Homo sapiens: one gene and its partner. The protein of the gene in region 1 interacts with the protein of each later gene in a pairwise test. Each region holds a gene or a part of one and is shown in the gene's direction. Other genes may lie near its edges.

Region 1 (3,500 bases):
GTGTGTGTGTATATATATGTATGTGTGTGTGTATATATATGTGTGTGTGTATATATATGTGTGTGTATATATATGTGTGTGTGTATATATGTGTGTGTGTATATATGTGTGTGTGTATATATGTGTGTGTGTATATGTGTGTGTGTGTATATATATGTGTGTGTGTGTGTATATGTGTGTGTGTGTGTGTGTGTGTGTGTATATTTTCTGAAACACGGTTTCACTCTGTTACCCAGGCTGGAGTGCAGTGGCGCGATCTGGGCTCACTGCAACCTCCGCCTCCCGGATTCAAGCGATTCTTCTGCCTCAGCCTCCCGAGTAGCTAGGATGAGATTACAGGCGTGCACCACAATGCCTGGCTAATTTTTGTATTTTTAGTGGAGCTGGGGTTTCACCATGTTGGCCAGGCTGGTCTCAAACTACTGACAAATGATCTAACTGCCTCGGCCTCCCAAAGTGCTGGGATTACAGGTGTGAGTCACCACGCCTGGCCTCAGGAATTTTTTTTTTTTTTGAGAAAGACTCTCTCTCTGTCACTCAGGCTGGAATGCAGTGGTGCAATCACAGCTCACTGAAGCCTCAAACTTCCAGATGCAAGTGATCTTCCTGCTTCATTCTCCCAAGTAGCTGGGACTACAGGCACGCATCACCATGTCTGGTGAATTTTTAAAAATTATTTTTGGGGTTAGGTGCGGTGGCTCACGCCTGTAATCCCAGCACTTTAGGAGGTCAAGGCAGGCAGATCGCTTGAGGCCAGGAGTTCGAGACCAGCCTGGCCAACAGGGTGAAACCCCATCTCTACTAAAAACACAAAAATTAGCCAGGCATGGTGGTGCACGCCTGTAGTCCCAGCTACTCAAGAGGCTGAGGCAAGAGAATCGCTTGAACCCGGGAGTCAGAGGTTACAGTGAGCCGAGATCGCGCCACTGCACTCCAGCCTGCTGATAGAGCAAGACTCCATCTCAAAAAAAAAACAACCCAAAATTTGCCTGGCATGGTGGCAGGCATCTGTAATCCCAGCTACTCGGGAGGCTGAGACATGAGAGCTGCTTGAACCTGGGAGGCAGAAGTTGCAGTGAGCCGAGATCACACCACTGCACTCCAGCCTGGGTGACAGAGCGAGACTCTGTCCCAAAAAATCAAAAAAATCACTTTTGGTAGAGATGCACTCTCGCTATGTTGCCCAGGCTGGTCTTGAACTCCTGGGCTCAATTGATCTTCCCACCTTGACCTCCAAAGTGCTGGGATTACAGGTGTGAGCCACCATGCCTAGCCTCAGGGAATTCTTATAAGAACTCTATGAAGTAGGCATCACCATCTTCTCTGTATCCATGGAAAGAGAGGCCTAGAGATGTATGCTAACTTGCCCAAGCTCACATAGCCCAGGGTAGCATAGCTGGGATCTGGCTGCAGGCCTGCTTAGCTCTGCATACTCACCTTCTTCCCAGCTTGGGGCAGTGCAGTGGGTAGCAGTTAGCCCCCCGGTGCTTGCCAGAGAGGTGCCCTACAGGGTAAGAGGGCACTGCCCTAAGGGTGCCTGGCGCTGAGAGGTTGGGTGAGAATACCCAGCAGCTTGGAGACAAAATGCAAGGGCACCTCCCTCTTCTGAGAAGAGGTCTTGGCTTCCACACCCCTCTATACCCTGTATGTGTCAGACATCCAGTGGGGACCAGCCCCTGCTAGGCCCTGGAGATACAAAGGCATCCAGGAGGACATGCACGAGGACCTAAGCCGGAATGGGGATCAGCTAAACCACGGACCCAACAAAACCCAACTCAAAGGCTACAGTGACTTTTTACTCAGCTACCCTTTTTTCAAACCAACAAACAGGCCAAGAGCAAAATTAGAACATGCATTTTGGTCAGAGCCATGTTGGTCAGGCTGGTCTCGAACTCCTGGGCTCAAGTGATCTACCCGCCTTGGCTCCCCAAAGTGCTGGGATTACAGGATTGAGCCACTATGCCCAGCCCCAGTGCCAGCCTCTTAATGTTATCCTTGGGAAGTAAGAGTGTAGCTTGACTATGAAATAACATGAAAGTACAAGTTAACCTGAGGTAGGGGAATGAGACTAGAGAAGTTGGTGCCCAAGGAGCTCCTGCATTGCTGAGGGGCTGTGGTTTCTCAGTGAGCTCAGAGAAGGGGTCTAGGCAGCTCATCTCCCTTTGAACTTCTTCCCACCCCCCAGCGCAGCAGAATGTGCTGTCTGCTTTCACCCAGCTTCCTCCCTGGGAAACCAGGCAGCCCAACCCTCAGCAGCCGAACTCCCTCCTCCATATATCCCCGTGGGCTACCAGGCAGGCCCTGGACAAAGGCCGCCTGAGCAGGCCAGGCCCCTCCCATCCCACCCTGCTGTGTCAGGGCCTGGCACACTCCTTAGTGCGGTGTCGGCAGCTACCTCTGCCAGCGCCTGATCACCTTCCCAGGATAAGCCTGGCTCTGGATGGTGAGTGAGTATGCCTGCCTTCCCCTGTGAGTGCCAGCCCAGGCACTGGCCACGCTTGGGGGAAGGGGTGGGGAACTGTGGCGAGGCTGAGCTCTGCAGAGATGCCTACGGCTTCAGAAAGCAGCTGGATCCACAGACTTGTCCCCAAACCTCTGCGCCCCTCTGCCCCAGCCTCAACTCAGCCCAGATCGTAAGGAAGCCTCAGGCTCTCAAAGTGAAATTAAGTCCTGATCTGATAGAGGGTCCACATAGGGGAAATCTCTACCTGGGGATAGAAGTTAGGCAGGGATATCTGGCCAAGCTCACCCTCCAAAGGCAGATAGGGAACAGGTATCAATGAGCACCTGGCAAAGCTCACAAAATGTTGCTTACTAGCCGTCCAGAGGAGACCTGCTTTGATCACTAGAAGAGAGTGCTTTGCAACTGGCTTCTCAAATATTGCCCACAATAAGGTCCTTTGATGGGGGTTTTGAAATACTGAGGTGTCTGGGTTATAGAATGTCTTTACTTTCAATATTCCACGTCAAAATGCAGCCTTGCTAAGATCTGCAGGGAACCTGCTGTAATGTGGAGCGGAACTTGCTTTGTAATTAGCATAGCAACTGTTCCTGTACCAGTGGGTACTTCTAAAGTGACTGAAAACAGTTTGTTCTCATTTGCAGTATGAACAAACCTCCTGAAAGCTTGTTTACGCTGTCGGATTGTAGAGCAAAACAAAAACAGCCTTTATTCCCAAACAAATAGCGGAAAGGCAACATTTAGACCACAGCCATTTACCTCTCAGAGCTCTTTGGGGCGAAGTTGACACTGTGACAAGGTATCCCAGCCCATCTTTTGGCCCTGGGAAAGGCTAAAATTGGGAAGGAAATGCGTTTATGTTGGTTGTGGTTCTGAGGGCACGTCTGTTCCCAGCTAAACTCCTGCAGTCAGCAGATGCCCTGAAATAAATCAAACCTCCTCATGCTGTTGGGACAGCGAAGCTTCGTGTACACCTTTTTGGAGGGCAATTTAGCAATAGCCTAAAAGAAAATGCACATACTCTTTGGCTCAGCACTTT
Region 2 (3,500 bases), on another chromosome or scaffold:
AGATATAAAGTGATCAAATGATTTCAGAGGGGAGAGGAGGGAACTTTCAGATGAGAAGTAAGGGAGGCTTTTATAGGAGATGTCAGAGCTGGATAGGTGGAGGTGAGGTGAAAGGGCTTTCCAAGGGTCAGAAGAACATGTGAAAAGGTGAAAATTGCAGGGAAAAAAAGAGTGTTTTGACAGGTGGTAAAGATATCAATGTAGTTAAAACAGAAGGGTTTACAAATCCATTCAATTGTTCACAAATATTATTGAGTAATCACAATGTTCCATGCACTGTGGAGGACGTATGTAAGCTATGGCTGATCAGGAGGTTAAGACCCAGATATAGCTGGTCTTGAGAGCCATGCCAGGGAGTTTAAATTTATTCTGTAGGTCAGCATTTCCCACTAGCAGTGTGTAAGATTAATTTAGGTGGTACCCAAAGAAAGCTATTAATCATGTGAAATTATTGTATATTTTTCTTAGTATGGATTTTTAGCAAACACACATAAATATCACCTCAAATCTCTCCTTTAATGAATTATGTTGCTTAGGAACAGTCTAAAATAGATAATAAGTATAAAATAATTAGATCAAATTAAAGAAAAATATTAAAAGATTATAATCTGAAACAGGGACTCACCGAGATCATGAACTAAGTATAAACTTGGGGAAATGCTGCCAATGATGACAGAGAACCCCCAGTTGGTGGTCCTTAGCATCTTCGGTGCCATGGAGTCCTTTGATAATCTGATGGCAAATGCCTTCAGGGCTTCCTTGTAGACTCATTACCTGAGGCAAGTGTGCAGGAGCTTTGGGCTCACTGTGAAATATTCAGATAGGAAGTCAACATGATCGTATTTGGAAGTATGCTTCTAAGACTAAAGGACTTTTACAGAGTTGATTCATAAACATTATTGAGTGAGTTATACATGTCACGCCCCATGCCAGGTGCTAGGGGTACAAGACTAAGGCAACCAATCTAGTCCCAGGATTCATTTTCTCCCATTCCTCTTTATAGAGAACCATATAACCAGCAGTCAATTGCTGAGACCCTCTTGGTTTATGGCTGTCTTATTGGCCTTGTCAGGCTTTGTTGCCTAGAACAGAAGTCAGCAAGTTTCTACTGTAAAGGGCCAGACAGATAATAACTATTTTAAGCTTTGCAGGCTATATGTTCTTTGTTGTATCTATTTAACTCTGCCATTATAGTGCAAAAGTAGCCACAGACAATACAAAAACAATGGATGAGGCTGTGTTCCAATAAAACTTTATTTCCAAAAGCAGGTAGCAGGCCCATATTGGCCCATAGGCTATAGTTTACCAACCTCTGATCTAAATGGAGGTCTTTTAGGAAGACCAGTGTCCAGCCAACTGTGCGGGGATCTCCACCCACTACAAACACAAATATTAAAAAACCATGAAGTCCTCATCCCCGAAAAGCTTCAAGAAAGGAACAATCACCACATGTCCCATTTGGTGGCGTTTTGTTTGTTAGGAAATTTGGGGACTTGCCCACACAATCTCCAAGGTCCCTCCCAGTTCTGTAATTCTGTGGCTGATGAGCTATTCAAGCAAGGTTGGCTGAGTTTTATGCCATCCATTAGACCCCCATTTTCCATTTTAGTCTTGGCAGCTGAACTCTTTTGGGCATTCTACCACTGACCTTTTGGGATTTCCTGTGTCACAGAATGCTGACATTGTGTTTGTTCTCATTGATTTTCTCCCTTCATTCTTTCTGCATTAAGCTTTGTGCATGGGAAGGCCTTCTTATTACATAAATAAGCATCTGTTTTTCCCTGAGACCCACTGCAAACCTGATTTTTGCAAATTTCTTTTTTCAGATCTGTTTTCCCAGCCGGTCAGTTTTAATGGGCTCCGAAAATACCCCCTCCTCTTCAATGTGTCCATTCCTCACCATGAAGAGGTCATCATGGCTGAACTTAGGCTATACACACTGGTGCAAAGGGATCGTATGATATACGATGGAGTAGACCGGAAAATTACCATTTTTGAAGTGCTGGAGAGCAAAGGGGATAATGAGGGAGAAAGAAACATGCTGGTCTTGGTGTCTGGGGAGATATATGGAACCAACAGTGAGTGGGAGACTTTTGATGTCACAGATGCCATCAGACGTTGGCAAAAGTCAGGCTCATCCACCCACCAGCTGGAGGTCCACATTGAGAGCAAACACGATGAAGCTGAGGATGCCAGCAGTGGACGGCTAGAAATAGATACCAGTGCCCAGAATAAGCATAACCCTTTGCTCATCGTGTTTTCTGATGACCAAAGCAGTGACAAGGAGAGGAAGGAGGAACTGAATGAAATGATTTCCCATGAGCAACTTCCAGAGCTGGACAACTTGGGCCTGGATAGCTTTTCCAGTGGACCTGGGGAAGAGGCTTTGTTGCAGATGAGATCAAACATCATCTATGACTCCACTGCCCGAATCAGAAGGAACGCCAAAGGAAACTACTGTAAGAGGACCCCGCTCTACATCGACTTCAAGGAGATTGGGTGGGACTCCTGGATCATCGCTCCGCCTGGATACGAAGCCTATGAATGCCGTGGTGTTTGTAACTACCCCCTGGCAGAGCATCTCACACCCACAAAGCATGCAATTATCCAGGCCTTGGTCCACCTCAAGAATTCCCAGAAAGCTTCCAAAGCCTGCTGTGTGCCCACAAAGCTAGAGCCCATCTCCATCCTCTATTTAGACAAAGGCGTCGTCACCTACAAGTTTAAATACGAAGGCATGGCCGTCTCCGAATGTGGCTGTAGATAGAAGAAGAGTCCTATGGCTTATTTAATAACTGTAAATGTGTATATTTGGTGTTCCTATTTAATGAGATTATTTAATAAGGGTGTACAGTAATAGAGGCTTGCTGCCTTCAGGAAATGGACAGGTCAGTTTGTTGTAGGAAATGCATATTTTCCTCTCCAGTTAAGTCCCTTTCAATCTGTTTTCTCTTTGGACTTGCCATTTCCTGGCAATGCCACCTCCCTGTTGATTTGAAAACAACCCCTAGGCAAAATACAGTGTCAAAAGACACACACTTGTGTATGTATATTTGTACATACATGAACTTACAAAAATCTTTTGGTTCTATGCAGGCAGGTTATACTCATCTACATGCATGACTCACTCAAATGTATGCATATTAAAGGCCAATGGTATGTTCTCTGTTACCTCTTCTCTGAGTAGGATTTAAGTCAAGATAATTGACATCAGGGTTTTAATCATCCTAGGAAGTATTACCCTTCCTAAATACTCTGGAAATGTAAGTGTAGCTTTTGTCAGTTGAGTTTCTGTAGTTGCTCAGAGAGGAGGGGCCTGGCAAAGGATGCTTGAAGGGAAGGGTTAATTGATACAGAAACCAAATGGACTTAAGAGGTCTTAGAGGTACAACAGGAAAAAATGAACCCATGGAGGACCAATGTGCTCCAGAGGGCAACTCCTGGTCAAGGCAGGAAAACAGAAGAAACCAGCATGAAATCTGTTCCTGAGACAATAGGAA

The links. Proteins that work in one complex are often made in the same cells at the same time.
Region 2: the proteins of VSIR (region 1) and BMP10 interact in binary tests that used the Homo sapiens proteins (3 or more experiments, as listed by UniProt).

Annotation. Positions count from the first base shown.
Region 1 is NC_000010.11:71,756,521-71,760,020, reverse strand, and holds part of VSIR (V-type immunoglobulin domain-containing suppressor of T-cell activation precursor), read left to right. Parts: intron 1-3,500.
Region 2 is NC_000002.12:68,864,898-68,868,397, reverse strand, and holds part of BMP10 (bone morphogenetic protein 10 preproprotein), read left to right. Parts: intron 1-1,826; coding exon 1,827-2,767; 3' UTR 2,768-3,500. UniProt on the Homo sapiens protein: Required for maintaining the proliferative activity of embryonic cardiomyocytes by preventing premature activation of the negative cell cycle regulator CDKN1C/p57KIP and maintaining the required expression levels of cardiogenic factors such as MEF2C and NKX2-5.